2 separate regions of the Homo sapiens genome follow, and region 2 is linked to region 1. The links come from fine-mapping of genetic effects on gene expression. Tissue or cell type: sun-exposed skin. Region 1 holds a variant in brackets; the other region holds the start of a gene. All regions are shown on one strand. Distances are from middle to middle.

Region 1 (8,179 bases):
CACAGCCTTGGCTATGTGAGCCACCTTCTTAAAAAAGCCAACTCGCACTCCAGTGGGAGAGCCTGTGGTTTTGCACCCACGCAGGGCTGTGCCTGCTCGCTGCCACTCCCATCTGTGAACCGGCACTTCCAGTTCATGAGCCCACCCTGAGAGTCTCCTAGTGTCATTTTTTTTCCTGGTGTTATTTTTGAGCTCTTAACCAGCTTGAGAGAGTTTGTGGCCCGTCCATGAGGGAGCCTCTGTTTACTGTGCAGGCATCATTTTGACATTTATGAATGTCAGAGAACAAATGACTTCATCTCGAGCTGCCTAAGGCTGCAAAGAGTTCATTAGAAAGCAATCAGAATTCAGAACGTCTTAGTACAGGCTTCAGTTTATAAATATACACCAGTGTTTCCAAAACACAGTCCTCAGTGTGTGTCATGGGGTCTGTGGTGTGTCCCCAGCCTTTGAAGGGTGACTTCGTCGTCTCTTTGCAGCCTACACAGACGACCTGGGTGCTGTGGGTGGCGCCTGCCTGGAGGACGAGGCCAGCGCCCTGCGCCTGGATGAGGACAGCGAGCACCCGCCCATGATTCTTCGGACTGACTGAACTTGACCTGTGACCTCTGACCCGGGGAGCAGAGAACACTGGCTTCACAGAGGACTTTGTGCATTGCTGCTATGAACTTTGACCTGAGTCGGGGGAGAGGATGGCAGAGACTTTATTAAAAAAAAAAAAAGATTGTAGTGGTAGTCTAACTCCATAACGCTGAGGAAATACATCATTTTCACTTCAGTGGCTTTTAAATCCTGCTTATGAATTTTAGCTTTTTGTTTGTTTGTTTTCTCTTTTTGCCAAAATTAACTGTTTGGTGAAGCCCGCAAAACCTCCTCGCTTTGCATGCATGAACGTGCCAAGCCAGCATAGGGGAGCTAGAAGCCACTTTCCAGCCACCTGCCGTTGGGTTTTTTCATATCTGTACATAATGCCGAGTGCGTAAGGAAACCGTGGCGTCGCGCACAGTGGGTCTGCTTGTCAAGGCCAGTTCTGCAGTGACAGGCCCAGGGGCTGCCCACCAGGTGTGCTGGGCAGACTTCAGCTGGGACAGAAGTCCGATCTCCCTAGGGCCCCACCTGGACCATTTTCCCTCCGTTTTATTTTGTTAATTAAATTCTTTCCAAATTGGATCGCTCTGGGATTTCTTCCATGGTGGACTTTTGTTTCTGATCTTGTTTTCCCTGTGGATATTGGAGGACAGCGAGGTTCTTTCTGATACTAAAAACCTTTCTTTCAGGCAGCAAATGAACTTGAAAGGTTGCCTGGACTCGCTGGAGCAAAGGAAAGCGATTTTGTTTGTATAATTAAATGATCTGTTCTTCTACTTCACTCTTCCTGTTGAAAAACTGTGTGATTTTTTTTTTTTTTTAAGTAAAGTTTGTAGCTCCTCCCATGCCCAGGAAAGCACAGAACTCAAGTGTGGTGGCCGTCTGAGCTGTCCTTTCGCTGGCCCCGCTGTCCGCAGGGGCTTCCTACCTGTGTGAGAGGTCGTAGCGGGAGACAGCAACAGAGAGTAGGCGGCTGGGCCACGTCCTTCACAGGGCGTCATGTGCCTTTCTATTTTCATCTTAGAAAATTTCCTCAGCAAACCGATGAGAGATTGTGGTTGCAAGCTTCAGTATTTGCCTCGCTTCCCTTCCCTTTTCATATTTACAGAATTAAAACAACCTCAAGTACCTCAGACTCTGCATTCCAAACCAAGGCACCCAGCAGCCAAAGTGTCGAGGGCATTTAAGTGGCATTAATGGCAGGAGAGATGGTTTTAGAATCTATGGAGTGGTGGAAGTTACGGATAGAAGGGAAAAGGCAAAAACTATTTACCCTGCCTTTGCAGGCTGGGGTTTTTGAACCGAGGAAGGCTGGGACGCCTGTTTCCAGATGGTTGTCATGGTCACGCTGGGCGAAGAGCTGGAGGGGAGTTGTCCCCTCAGCTGAGCGGCTGCGGTGAAATGCCCCAGTGTTCCTGGGTTGGCTTTACGGCAAACTAAATGCAGGGGACGCTGGAGTCCGACTCACCTACACCGGCTTCCTCCCAGCCGCTGGTGTGCGGCACACACAACATCTGCATTAGGCAGAGGTGCAAGTGGGCTGATTGAACTTTTCCTTCAAAACCTGCTTGTCTGTCCTGGACCTTTGATGAAATGGGATCCCGGTCACGCAGGCTGAGACAGTGGGGACCGCCGAGGCCAGAGTGGGCTATGCTTGAGCAGGGATGAGAAGGGCCGCGGCAGCACGCAGCCTTGACCCACGCCTGCGTCTTGTGGTGCAAGGCCAGAGGGCTCTCTCTAGAACCTGACCGTGCACTCCATCTCCTGGGAGCCACTTTTGGCAAGAGTGAGTGTGGGGGGAAAAAGTGTGCACAAGAGATACGGAACCCTGAGCTAGGGTTTCCTGTCACCAAAGAGTGAGCTGCATTTCCAGTTCTGCGTTAAAGTATCGTTTGTTCTGGTGCCTGCCTGTGGTGGTGATTTGGAGACTCAAATTTCCTTTGCCAGGTCTCTTTTGTCTTTCTTTGGGATTGGTAGTATAGAAGATGCTGGGAATTGTCTTCCTCGCTCAGCCTCGGCTTCCCGCACTGTAAGATGAGGCAGTTGCAGAGGAGGCCTCGGACGTCCTGTGACCCTCGGCCCACACTCCCCCTTGGGTGGCCCTGGCAGGGCTGGCTAGGTGCGTTCCCTGCAGACCACGGGAAGCCCTGTGCTTGCCTGGGTCAGGGCTAAGCTGTGCGCCCTAGAGGAGGGAGGAGGACTGCAGATTCTTGGTCGAGAAGAATGAAGAGGATTTCTGTGTTTGCTGAGCAGCCATTGTGGAGGGTTACCCGCCTCCACTTTCCCGTTGCCCATTTCACTGCCACCAGCTCCTCTTCCTCTGCTCGAACCTATGAGTCCCAGCCTCACTGGCGGCCTCAGACATGCTCAGGAGTGACGGGGACAGAGGGAGGCCGCTGAGTTGCCCGTTAGAACTCTTACTGCTGCGCCAGTGACCCAGGTGGAGAGGGACCCTGAACCAAACAGAACGTGTGCTAATTTTCCGAACTCCAAACTGTACACTCATATTCATTTTTAAATTGTATTTTTCCAAACTTCAAAAAGGACGATGAGCGTGGGGGATAGGAAACAAAACCTGTAAACGTTGTGAATGGGCTCAGTGGACTCTGGGACCAAACCTTCTGTAATCTCTAAAACAATGGGACCAAGAGCTGGATGGAACCTGGAGTCAAAAAGAACTGCTTCAGTCCCCGCTGTACCGCCTGCCTAGCTGTGGGAGCAGGCAGGGCGCCTGGGAGCCTGCGTTTTCTGGACCGTTCCATGGGACTCATCCCTACCTCACAGGGCTGTTGTGAGGTGTTGTGTGACTGCGTGTCCTGCAAACGCCCAGCTCGGTGCCCAGCCAGCGGTGGGCACCCAATAAACGCTACAACATAAATGTGTCTTCTGCAATTAAACACGATTTTTATTCAGTTCTGGTTTTTGAATAAGCCAGGCGGGAGGGAGGTGACAATACGGGTAAGAAGTGTAATTCAGAGGCTAGGCACGGTGGCTCACACCTGTAATCCCAGCACTTTGGGAGGCCAAGGTGGGCGGATCACTTGAGGTTAGGAATTCGAGACCAGCCTGGCCAACATGGTGAAACGACATTTCTACTAAAAATACAAA[A/C]ATTAGCTGGGGGGGTGGGGCGGGGGATGGTGCACGTCTGTAATCCCAGCTACTTGGGAGGCTGAAGCAGGAGAATCGCTTGAACCTGGGAGGCAGAGGTTGCCAGGAGCCAAGATTGCATCAGTGCACTGCAGCCTAGGCGACAGAGCAAGACTCTGTCTCAAAAAAAAAAAGTGTAATTCACATGGAGGTTACACGTGGGTCTCTTTCATCCCCGCCTTTTCTCAACACCAAGCTTAACGGGCAGGTGGTGCGAGCTGGTCTGGGAGGTGGTGGGCGCCCTGGAACAGCAGGCCCTGCCCCTGTCAGGGGACCCAGGAGCTCCATGGCTGCCGTTCCCTGCCACAGAGAGAACTGGGTGATTCTTCCCACGCACGGTTTCATTTGGAGAGGGGAGAGAGGGAGTCTTCCTACCTCCACAACCAGCAGTGGGCTCCATGTGTAAAAGGCCGGGAGTGCTTTGGCCACAGCTTAGCCAAGGAAACGGGACAAGGGGTGGCAGAAAACATGCTCATCCCTGTTGCTCGTCTGGTTTTTTTGGTTTAGTTTTTTGTTTGGGGGTTTTTGTGGTTTTTTTTTTTTGAGACTGAGTCTCGCTCTGTCGCCCAGGCTGGAGTGCAGTGGCACGATCTCGGCTCACTGCAACGTGCACCTCCTGGGTTCAAGCAATTCTCCCTCAGCCTCCTAAGTAGCTGGGACTATAGGCACGCACCACCACGTCCGGCTAATTTTTGTATTTTTAGTAGAGACCGGGTTTCACCATGTTGGCCAGGCTGGTCTCGAACTCCTGACCTCAAGTGATCCACCCGCCTCGGCCTCCCAAAGTGCTGAGATTATAGCCATGAGCCACCTCGCCCCGCTGCTCGTGGTTTTCATAACCACATTGGCAAAGGGTGGGGATGGGCCAGGCTTGTTGTTTCGTGTGTCCCCTGCCCTACATCTTTGTAGACCAGACCTTTGCATGCAGGGAATGACCGAGTCACTTGTTTGAAATGTACATGAGGTGGCTCATGCCTGTAATCCCAACCCTTTGGGAGGCAGAAGCGGGCGGATCATCTAAGGTCAGGAGTTCGAGGCCAGCCTGGCCAACATGGCAAAACCTGTCTCTACTAAAAATACAAAAAGTAACCAGGCGTGGTGGTGGGTGCCTGTAATCCCAGCTACTCTGGAGGCTGAGGCAGGACAGTTGCTTGAAACCGGGAGGTGGAGGTTGCAGTGAGCTGAGTCATGCCACTGCACTCTCACCTGGGCAACAGAGTGAGACTGTCTCAAAAAAGAAAAAGAAAAAGAAACGGACATGTGACACCATGGCCAGCAAGCAGGAAATCCAAATGCGTTATTTTACAAGCGTACTTAAGAGAGAGGCGGGACCGTTCGGCTTCAGCTCTGTGGTGTTGGAGATGTAAAAAGAACGTGCAGGGAAACCGTGGGACTTCTGTTTGGGTCGCCTCCCTGCTTTACATAGAATTCTCTTTTTTATGACTTATTTCTTACTGAAAATATATCATGATAATCATTGGCCAAGCAGATAGGGTTTTTCTGACGTATCTTTTAGTTCTGACCCAGGTCATAACCCTTCACCTATGTCATACCTTTTCAATCTGTGGGTTTTTCTGAAGCACAAAAACAAAACAAAACCAATCTCAGGGTTTTGAGATGTGACCAGTTCTTACCCTTCCCTAATAACCAGCTAGGAAAGTCTCTAATTTAGAAAAATGAGGCCGGGCGCGGTGGCTCATGCCTATTGTAATCCCAGCACTTTGGGAGGCCAAGGCGGGTGGATCACAAGGTCAGGCGTTTGAGACCAGCTTGACCAACATGGTGAAACCCCGTCTCTACTAAAAATACATGGGCATGGTGGCATGTGCCTGTAATCCCAGCAACTCAGGAGGCTGAGGCAGGAGAATCGCTTGAACCCGGGAGGCAGAGTTTGCAGTGAACAGAGATCATGCCACTGCACTCCAGCCTGGGTGACAGAGCACAGCTCTGTCTCAAAAAAAAAAAAAAGAAAAAAGAAAAATGAAATCTTTCTAAAGTTCAGAATGTGAAGAGACTGTCTTGATTCCTCACCTCTACATCGTTTCTTTCTATAGTTAGTTATAATGTAAATAGATTCCTCTTAACACTTCATTTTAGGTGAAGCTGTTTTTGGTGCTGCCAGTGTGCGTGCATGTGTGTGTGTGTGTGTGTCTGTGAGTGTGTGTGTGTGTGCCTGCCTGAGCTTCAGGTGAACATACTGATTACATTCCCCCACCAAATCTGACTGAAAGCCCATTGCTATCAGCATTTTATAACACGCTAAAGAATTGGACGTGGTGGCTCACACCTATAATCCCAGCTTCTTGGGAGGCCAAGGCAGGAGGATCGCTTGAGACCAGCAATTTGAGGCAAGGCCAGTCTGGACCACATAGCAAGACCCCCTCTCTTAAAATTAAAACCTGTGTTCTATTTTTTTGTTGCCTACTCACAGGCTGAACATCTCATTTGTTTTTGTTTGTTTGGTTTGTTTTTGAGACAGTCTCACTCTGTCACCCAGGCTGGAGTGCAGTGGTGCGATCTCAGCTCACTGCAACCTCTGCCTCCCAAGTTCAAGCGATTCTCCTGCCTCAGCCTCCTGAGTAGCTGGGATTACAGGTGCCCACCACCACGCAAGGCTAATTTTTGTACTTTTAGTAGAGACGGGGTTTCACCACGTTGGTCAGACTGGTCTCGAATTCCTGACTTCGTGATCCACCCACCTCGGCCTCCCGAAGTACTGGGATTACAGGCATGAGCCACCGAGCCCAGCCTTAAACATCTAATTTGTACCAAATTGCCCTATAATTCTACCTAGAATATTATAGCAAAATGCCAGAAGCCTGACTAAAATCTTTTAAAGAAACCCAACTCGGCCAGGCGTGGTGGCTCACACCTGTAATCCCAGCACTTTGGGAGGCCGAGGCGGGTGGATCACGAGGTCAGGAGATCGAGATAGTCCTGGCTAACACGGTGAAACCCCGTCTCTACTAAAAATACAAAAAAGTAGCCGGGCGTGGTTGCAGGCGCCTGTAGTTTCAGCTACTCGGGAGGCTGAGGCAGGAGAATGGCCTGAACCCGGGAGGTGGAGCTTGCAGTAAGCCGAGATCGCCCACTGCACTCCAGCCTGGCGACAGAGTGAGCCTCCGTCTCAAAAAAAAAAAAAAGAAAAAGAAAAAAGAAAACAAAAAGAAACCCAGCTCTCCCAGGGTGGGGGGCATTACACAGGGGAGCCCCTCCGGGTGTCGCCGCAGCTGAATGATTGCGTTGGTGGAACAGCTGGCCCGCTTGTGCGTGGGCCAGGACACGGTGGACCTGTTCCGCCTGCGTTCTTGCCGGTCCATGTTTGGATTAGCATGTGAGTTTAAACATAGTGCTGATGCGGCGATTCTTCTAGAAGCACATCCTTCTCTGAGCTGAATTGCTTCATCACACACTTCCTTCTGGCTTGGGGAGTTCCTTTTCATCAAAGGCCAAGCCTTGTGTGTTTCGGTCCTGCCCATCTCCGTGCGGCCTGCGGGACGTTGGTTGGCGTGGAGTCTTCACAGCCGGCTGTCCAGGCTGGCAGCTCTCCCATCAGGGCTTCTCACAGCCACCGTCTGTCTGAGCAGACGCTGAGCATCGTGTCATCCCTCGGACACACACAAGACTCCACTATTCCCTGTGCTGATTTCTGTTTCTGTTACAGCTTCTGCTTCTGATTTTATTTTTTTTTTCTTTGAGATGGGAGTCTCGCTCTGTAGCCCAGGCTGGAGTGCAATGACATGATCTTGGGTCACTGCAACCTCCACCTCTCAGGTTCAAGCAGTTCTCCTGCCTCAGCCTCTGGAGTAGCTGGGATTACAGGTGCGCACCACCAAGCCTGGATAATTTTGCATGTTTCTGTAGAGACGAGGTTCCACCATGTTTCCAAGGCTGTTCTCAAACTCCTGGCCTCGGCCGGGCGCGGTGGCTCACGCCTGTAATCCCAGCACTTTGGGAGGCTGAAGTGGGCGGATCACCTGAGGTCAGGAGTTCGAGACCAGCCTGGCCAATATGGTGAAACCCCGTCTCTACTAAAAAAGAAAAAAAAATTAGCCTGGCTTGGTGGTGCGCCCCTGTAGTCCCAGCTACTCGGGAGGCTGAGGCAGAAGAATCACTTGAACCTGCGAGACGGAGGTTGCAGTGAGCCAAGATCACGCCACTGCACTCCAGGCTGGGCGACAGAGCAAGACTCTGTCACAAAAAACAAACAAACAAACAAACAAAAAAACCTCCTGACCTCAGGTGATCCACCCGACTCGACCTCCCAAAGTGTTGAGATTACGGGCGTGAGCCACTGCGCCCGGCCCTGTTGCTGCTTTTAGAAGTGGCTTTTTCTTCCTGTGCGACATTACTTTTTAGTGGGTCAGCGCAGAAATGTGCTTGGGCTCCCTGCGACGGCGAAGCACCTTTCCTCAAGGGAATCTGAAGACTTTTCCCTGCCTTT
Region 2 (8,146 bases), 45 kb before region 1:
GGTGGGTGCCTGTAATGCCAGCTACTTGGGTGGCTGAGACAGGAGAATCGCTGGAACCTAAGAGGTGGAGGCTGAGGTTACAGTGAGCCAAGATTGTGCCACTGCACTCCAGCCTGGGCGACAAGAGCAAAACTCCATTTAAAAAACAAAAAAACAAAAAACAAAAACAAAACTTTAGTAGGTAGTGCCCAAGTTTTCCAAAGTGGTTGAAACAATTTAGACTTTCATCTTGCAGTGAGCCGAGATCGTGCCACTGCACTCCAGCCTGGGCAACAGAGCGAGACTCCATCCACAGTGTATGAGAGTTCCAATTGCGCTCTATGGTCATCCACACTTGGGATTGTCAGTTGCTTTAATTTTAGCCAATTTGGTGGATGCTTAGTAATACCTCATTTGCCCTTAATTTGCATTTTCTTTTTTTGTTTGTTTGTTTGGTTTTTTTGAGATGGAGTCTTGCTCTGTCATCCAGGCTGGAGTGCAGTGGTGTGATCCCGGCTCACTCCAACCTCTGCCTCCCAGGTTAAAGCGATTCTCCTGCCTCAGCCTCCCGAGTAGCTAGGACTATAGGTGCCTACCACCAGGCCCAGCTCATTTTTGTATTTTTAGTAGAGACAGGGTTTCACCGTGTTGGCCAGGCTGGTCTCGAACTCCTGACCTCAGGTGATCCTCCCACCTTGGCCTCCCAAAGTGCTGGGATTACAGGTGTGAGCCACCACACCCAGCCTTAATTTACATTTTCTTAATGAGTATTAACGATGACCACCTTTTCAGGTGCTCATTAACATTCTGATATCCTCTTTTGTGAAGTGCTTGTGTTCAAGTATTTTGCCCAGTTAAAAAAAAAAAAGCTGTCTATATTTTTCTTATTGATGCGCAGAAGTTCTGGGTATAATTCCTTTGTCAAAAATATATATATTGCAGGCCGGGCGTGGTGGCTCATGCCTGTAATCCCAGCACTTTGGGAGGCCAAGGCGGGCAGATCACGAGATCAGGAGATTGAGATCATCCTGGCCAACACAGTGAAACCTCATCTCTACTAAAACACAAAAAATTAGCCTGGTGTGGTGGCACACGCCTGTAGTCCCAGCTACTTGGGAGGCTGAGGCAGGGGAATCGCTTGAACCCTAGAAGCAGAGGTTGCAGTGAGCCGAGATCGCACCACTGCACTCCAGCCTGGTGACAGAGCAAGACTCCGTCTCAAAAAAAAAAAAAAAAAAAAAAAAAAAAAAAATATATATATATATATATATATATATATATATATATAAAATAAATATATGTATCTCTAAATCTTGCCTTTTCTTCCTCTCTTAATGGTCTCTTGAAAATAGCCCATTCTTCTCAATGTTGATGAAGGCCAATCTCTCATTTTGTGGTTACTACTTTTTTTCTTTTGAGACAGAGTCTCGCTCTGTCACCCAGGCTGGAGTGCAGTGGTGCGATCTCAGCTCACTGCAACCTCCACCTCCCGGGTTCACGCCATTCTCCTGCCTCAGCCTCTTGAGTAGCTGGGACCACAGGCACCAGCCACCACACCCGGCTAATTTTTTGTATTTTTAGTAGAGACGGGGTTTCGCCATGTCAGCCAGGATGGTCTCGATCTCCTGACCTCGTGATCTGCCTGTCTTGGCCTCCCAACATGCTGGATTACAGGCGTGAGCCACCGCGCCCGGCCTGTGGTTACTACTTTTTAAAGAACTTGTTTTGTTTTGAGACAGGATCTTGCTCTGTCACCCAGGCTGGAGTGTAGTGGCGCGGTCATAGCTCACTGCAGGCTTGAACTCCCAGGCTCAAGCCATCCTCCCGCCTTAGCCTCTGAAGGAGCTGGGACCACAGGCGCACACCACCACGCCCAGCTAATTTTTGTATTTTTGTAGAGACCGGGTTTCCCCATGTTGCCTAGTCTGGTTTCAAACTCCTGGACTCAAGCAATCCGCCTGCCTCAGCCTCCCAAAGTGTTGGGATTACAGGCATGAGCCAACACATCCGCTTTAAAGTACCTGTTTAGACTACTTTGTTTATCCCAAAATCATGAAGGCATTCTCGTTTCCTTCTAGAAATTCTATTGTTTTTACCTCTCACATCTAGGACTGTAATCCATCTCAAATTAATTTTTGAATATGGTGTGAGGTAGGGGTACTTATTCCTTTTATTGAAAAGACCATCCTTTCCTCAATGATTTCCAATGCGTTCTTGACCCTATAATTAGAATTAACTTCTGTAAGCACTCATTAGATCGTTCCACTTTCCTGCCTGTCTTTAACGGCAGACCATTGCTCTTATGGACAATAATCAGATAATGGTCAGTTCCTTGCGTAACAATACGCAGCTTGATCTGGCCACCTCCTGTCTCTCCTGCCAAATCTTGCCTTGTGTCTGCCTTTCCACTCTGAACATAGAGTTCTTTGGACAGGTCACACCCTCATCCTCAAGCCCTTCCCATATAGAGTGTTTTCATGCCCTTAGACTAGTTACTCAAACTTCAGGTCTCATCTCTTCCAGGAGCCTTCTCAATAGCACAGTCCCTGTCCCTTAAATATAGGTTGTGTGACTTCTATATATGCATTCATGGTCAGGCACAGTGGCTCATGCCTGTAATCCCAGCACTTTGGGAGGCCGAGGCAGGCAGATTACCTGAGGTCGGAAGTTCGAGACCAGCGTGACCAACATGGAGAAATCCCGTCTCCACTAAACATACAAAAATTAACTGGGCGTGATGGTGCACACCTGTAATCCCAGCTACTCGGGAGGCTGAGGCAGGAGAATCACTTGAACCCGGAAGGTGGACGTTGCAGTGAGCCGAGATTGCGCCATCGCACTCCAGCCTGGTCAAGAAGGTGAAATTCCGTCTCAAAAAAAAAAAAAAAAAAAAAAAAAATATATATATATATATATATATATATATATTCGCTCATTGTACCCCCGAGTTTCTAATTATATTTATTTATTTTATTTTTTGAGATGGAGTCTCACTGTGTCGCCCAGGCTGGAGTGCAGTGGCATGATCTCGGCTCACTGCAGCCTTCACCTCCTGGGTTCAAGCAATTCTCCCATCTCAGTCTCCTGAGTAGCTGGGATTACAGGGCCGTGCCACCACAACTGGCTAATATTTTACATTTTTCCTAGAGACAGGGTTTCACCATGTTGGGCAGGCTAGTCTCAAACTCATGACCTCAGGTGATCCACCTGCCTCAGCCTCCCAAAGTGCTGGGGTTACAGGCGTGAGTCACCATGCCCAGCCTATTTTATTTTACTTTTTAGATGGAGTCTCACTCTGTCGTCCGTCCAGGCTGGAGTGCAGAGGTGCAATCTCGGCTCACTGCAACCTCCACCTGTGGGGCTCAAGCAATTCTCCCACCTCAGCCTCCCTAGTAGCTGAGATTACAGGTGCCCACCACCATACCCAGCTAACTTTTGTACTTTTAGTAGAGACGGGGTTTCACCATGTTAGCCAGGCTGGTCTGGAACTCCCGACCTCAGGTGATCCACCCGCCTCAGCCTCCCAAAGTGCTGGGATTACAGGTAAGAGCCACCACACCTGGCCTTCTATTTATATTTAAATATCTCCCCATTATAACTTCTCTGAGGGAAAGGAGGAGGCCTATTTAGTTCACATGAGAGGTGCGTCCTAAATACTGTTGAATGAATGAATAAATTTAAGGGACGATTCTGTCCCAGGAACCCAGACAGTATGGACCTTGGAGAAACAGGACGTTTCCAGTCTCAGATCTAGCACTTGGCTAATAATTATTTCTGAGCCTCGATTTTCAAATCTGTAAAATTAAGATATACTATTCTCTACTTAGGATTGTAATGGGCATCAAATAAGATAATGTGGCTGGGCACAGTGGCTCACATCTGTAATCCCAGTACTTTGGGAGGCCGAGGTGGGAGCATCACTTGAGGCCAGGAGTGCGAGACCAGCCTAGGCAACAGAGTAAGACCCCCCCCGCCCCCACCCCATCTCTACAAAAAACTTAAAAGTTAGCAGGGTGTGGTGGCATGCATTTGTGGTCCCAGCTACTTGGGAGGCTAAGGTGGGAGGATCGCTTGAGCCTGAGTTTGAGGCTGCAGTGAGCTGTGATTGAGCCTCTGCACTCCAGCCTAGGCAACAGAGCGAGACCTTGTCTTTCAAAATAATAAAATGATAAGGTAATGCGCAGAAGCATTCAGCACAGTGATTGGCACATGGAGGGCCCATTGGGGTGTTTTTGTTTTTGTTTTTGTTGTTGTTTGAGACAGAGTCTCGCTCTATGGCCCAGGCTGGATGGATTGCAGTGGCATGATCTCGGCTCACTGCAATCTCCGCCTCCTGGGTTCAAGCGATTATCTTGCCTCAGCCTCCCGAGTAGCTGGGATTACAGGCGTACACCACCAAGCCCGGCTAATTTTTCTTGTATTTTTAGTAGAGACGGGGTTTCACCATGTTGGCCAGGCTGGTCTCGAACTTCTGATCTTAGGTGATCCGCCCGCCTTGGCCTCCCAAAATGCTGGGATTACAGGCCACCGTGCCTGGCCATTGAGTGTTATTAAGAGGAGGGTACGCAGAAAACAGACTCCCGCCAGCTCTGCCCCATGCGCATGAGCGGCCGCCGCTCGCCCTCAGCCAGGCCCAGCGCGCCCCGACGCGTCCCCACGCCTGCGTGATCCACCGGAACCCAAGCCCAGGCAGGCGGTGAGAGGGCGGGGCCTCCGCAGTGCGACTGCGCCGCTCGAGGCCGTGCGTCGCGGGGGCGGGGCCGCGCAGGCGTACCGGGTGCCCCGGCTCTGGAGCATAAACAAGAGCGGGGACGGGATGAGGCGGCGGTTGATCCCAGGGTGGCGAGTGGCGGCGACCGAGGCGGCGAGCGGGGCCCGGCGCCGACCCTGAGTGCAGCCTGACCCGCCCTCGCGCGCGCGCCCTCCCCGGCCGGGCCCACTCGCCGCGCGCCCAGCCATGAACCTGGCGAGCCAGAGCGGGGAGGCCGGCGCCGGCCAGCTGCTCTTCGCCAACTTCAACCAGGACAACACGTAAGGCCGGGGTCGGGGGTCGGAGTCGGGGTGAGGCCAGGGTCGGACCCGGGCTAGGGGGAGGGCCTCGCTGCCAAGCTCGGCGGCGTCGCAGGCTCGGCCTCCCCGCGGGCCAAGGCGCGCAGAGGCGTCCCCAGGGGCGGGCCCGGGGCGTGCAGGGAGGGGCGCCCTCCAGGGAGACCCTCGGGTGCTGGCCTGGAGCTGCGGTCCCGGAGCGGGAGAGGTGGTGGAGAGGGGGCTGCTTTCACCCTCTTGCGGGGAGGCCCCCTGGCTTCAGACTTAACTACTTCTCGCAAAGTTGGGGCCGAACTTTGGGGCTTGACTTGTCTTGGCCGCCTGTGGAGCGCTGGGTGTGGGTCGCTTCCTCTCCTCTCGTCTCCTCTTCCCGCTGCTTGCTCAGCGTCTCCCACTCACTCTCCTTTGAATCAGGCCCTTCTCCTTGTCTTTTCATCGTCTTAAGACCCTTCTCTCTCTCTTGATTTTCTTTTCTTCGTTTCTCACTGTTTTTTTGTTTGTTTTTGTTTTTTGGGGTTTGTTTTGTTTTGAGACAGAGTCTTGCTCTGTTGCCCAGGCTGGAGTGCAGTGGTGCCATCTCAGCTCACTGCAACCTCCGCCTCCTGGGTTCAAGCGATTCTCCTGCCTCAGCCTCCCGAGTAGCTGAGACTACAGGCACGCGCCACTGTGCCCAGCTAACTTTTTTGTATTTGTAGTAGAGACAGGGTTTCACCATGTTGGTCAGGCTGGTCTCAAATTCCTGACCTCAAGTGATCCGCCCACCTCAGCCTCCCAAAGTGCTGGGATTACAGGTGTGAGCCACCGTGCGCGGCCCTCCCTGTTCTTTTTGGGACATCAACTTTGATGTCTTCTCCAGCAAGTAACAAACTTAGCAATAACCTTGGCATCTGACCTAGCTAGGGAGAAACTGAGCCAAGAGAGGCGTTACGGACCAGTGCCCCAGGAGTCTCAGAGCTCCAGCGGGTGGGTCATCCTCAGGGCAAGAGAAGGCCTTAATGCCAGCCCGTGCATTCGGAACGCTGTTTGTCCCCACTGATACGGGTTGGATGCTGCCTGGGAGGAGGACTTGTGGGGATGGTTAATAGATGAGCGAGCTTTCTGGAGAGAGAAGGGTGAGTTATGGGGTTGGCAGGGAGGAGAGCCATCTTGGAAGTGAGTAAGAGGAAGTGAGGAAAGAGAAGGAGTGGGGCATTTGGCATCTTACTAAGTCATTGGTTGAGTTGTTACTGGCTGAGTGGAATTAACATAGCAGAAGGTAAGATTCTTTAGGAAATTAAAAGTGAATTGTAGAATGGACAACACTCAGTGGGTGGTGTACAGCAGGCACTCAATAGCACCTCCCCAAAGCTGTGAAGACAGTCGCACAGTGGGACTGTATTGAGAGTCGGAAGGGGCAAATCACCTCATCCAACTACAGATGAGGAAATCCTTCCGAAAGGCTCCAAGCTGGTCTGGGTTTTGGAATTGGTTAATAGTGGAGCGGGGGCAGGAGTGGAATCTCGCCTCCTGAGCTCTCTTCCAATGTTCTTTCTGCTCTGCCATGCTGTTTTTTTTTCTGTTTACAGAGTAGAATTCTGAAGACAGTGAATTTAGAAATAATAGCATAACAACGTGTAAAGATGAAAACTCCCAAGTACTGTAGCGTTCTGTGTGACCAAAAGCCAGAACAACAAACAATTCGGACAACCTGTTGCAGTTCAAGTGGAATAGACTATGTTAATCCAGATAGGGAAAAGGACACATCCCAAACCAATTCTAATTTGGTTTTTAAGCCCAAGGCCACAGTATTTTGAGACCAGTAAGAAATGGTAGTAGTAGTAGGGTGGTTTATGCCTTGTATAAATTAGAGAGTTTCCAAAACATTGTCGGCCACTCTTTCAGTTTTTCACTAATTATTTCTATCAGAATGAAATCAAATAGAGAAAAGCATTCTCTTTTACTGTTACTTCAGCTGGACTGCCATGTTCCCTGTGTCACAGAAGAGTGTCACTCTGGCCTGAAATAGGACCTTTTCACACTTGGACATTTTCACACTTACCCACTTCTCCATGCTCCCCGAAGTTATTACAGTTCAAGAGATTTCTGTTACTTTGAGATTTCATAACTTTGACTTGCCAGAGAGACCTTGATGTAGTGTAAACCTAAATTGGAATGAATAGTAAGCTAGGATTATACTAGAAGTTGACTGGGCTAAAATGACGGTAATTTGTTTTAAATCTACACTTGAAAGAAATAGAGAAGTTCCCGGAGAGAGCTTTTATGGCTTATACCTTTTCCTCCCTTCTTAATCTCCAGAATTTATTGAGGAGCACAATTTTTAGCAAGTGAAAGAATGACCGTCTAGAACTCACATTTACTGTATGCAGTGAGAAAATTTGGAAGCCAGTTCACTTACTAGAATATATATGTTATAGGGTCATTTCCCTTTTTTTTGTCTTTTAAATTCTTTTTGTATTTGTTACATACCAAACTATAACTGTCCTGCCTTTCTTTACTGGTAATATGATTTCCAATGTCGTACTTTTTCATGATTCCTATCCTAAAAGTGTGCATAAGTTTTATTTGTTTTTTACCATTTGTTTTTTGTTTTGTTTTGTTTTTTTACCTAGAGAAGTGAAAGGGGCATCAAGAGCAGCTGGTCTTGGCCGTCGCGCTGTTGTCTGGTTAGTTCCAACCCTGGTTTCTGAAAGTATCACCTTGGAAGGCTTATGTTAGAGGACTTTTTTGGCTTTTTGAAATTGCAGTGAACCAGTTAATAAGTGGGAGAGGATCACTTGAATCTGAAATGGAAATATCAAGGACTACATTTTTCCAGTGGATACCACAGCTTGTGGGAAGTTAGTGATGTAGCAATGTCTGTTTTAAATGCCATGTCTAAAAGGGATGGAATGAAGAAAGGGACTTGACTTTCCAAGTCTTGTGTTTGTAGAATTGATGTTATGAAGTGTGTGGAGACAACAGGAGAAACCTGTTGTTTTCTTCCACCATGTCTCTTCTAGGTTATGCTTATTGTGCTGGGAAGGTACTGCTCTCCTCTCTTTGTTCATCTGTAAATCAAGGGTTTGGGTTTTTGTTTTTGAGATGGAGTCTCACTGTTGCACAGTTTGAAGTGCAGTGGCAT

The links. PIP is the estimated chance that this variant, and not a neighbour inherited with it, causes the effect.
Region 2: it holds the start of WIPI2, and the variant in region 1 is fine-mapped to the expression of WIPI2 in sun-exposed skin (GTEx, PIP 0.97).

What each region holds. Positions count from the first base shown.
Region 1 is chr7:5,230,356-5,238,534 of GRCh38, forward strand. It overlaps WIPI2 (WD repeat domain, phosphoinositide interacting 2), which reads left to right. Exons shown (of 13, transcript NM_015610.4): 13 at 480-3,485. The coding sequence ends at 592. Among named protein-coding and RNA genes, the nearest start is that of WIPI2, 44 kb to the left of the region's middle. RefSeq lists an enhancer at 1,602-1,751 and a silencer at 4,318-4,377. The variant A/C (reference allele first, on the strand shown) is at 3,697.
Region 2 is chr7:5,185,484-5,193,629 of GRCh38, forward strand. WIPI2 (WD repeat domain, phosphoinositide interacting 2) reads left to right here and starts at 4,750. Exons shown (of 13, transcript NM_015610.4): 1 at 4,750-5,010; 2 at 7,635-7,688. The coding sequence starts at 4,937. RefSeq lists silencers at 1,732-1,861, 4,535-5,184, 5,195-5,244.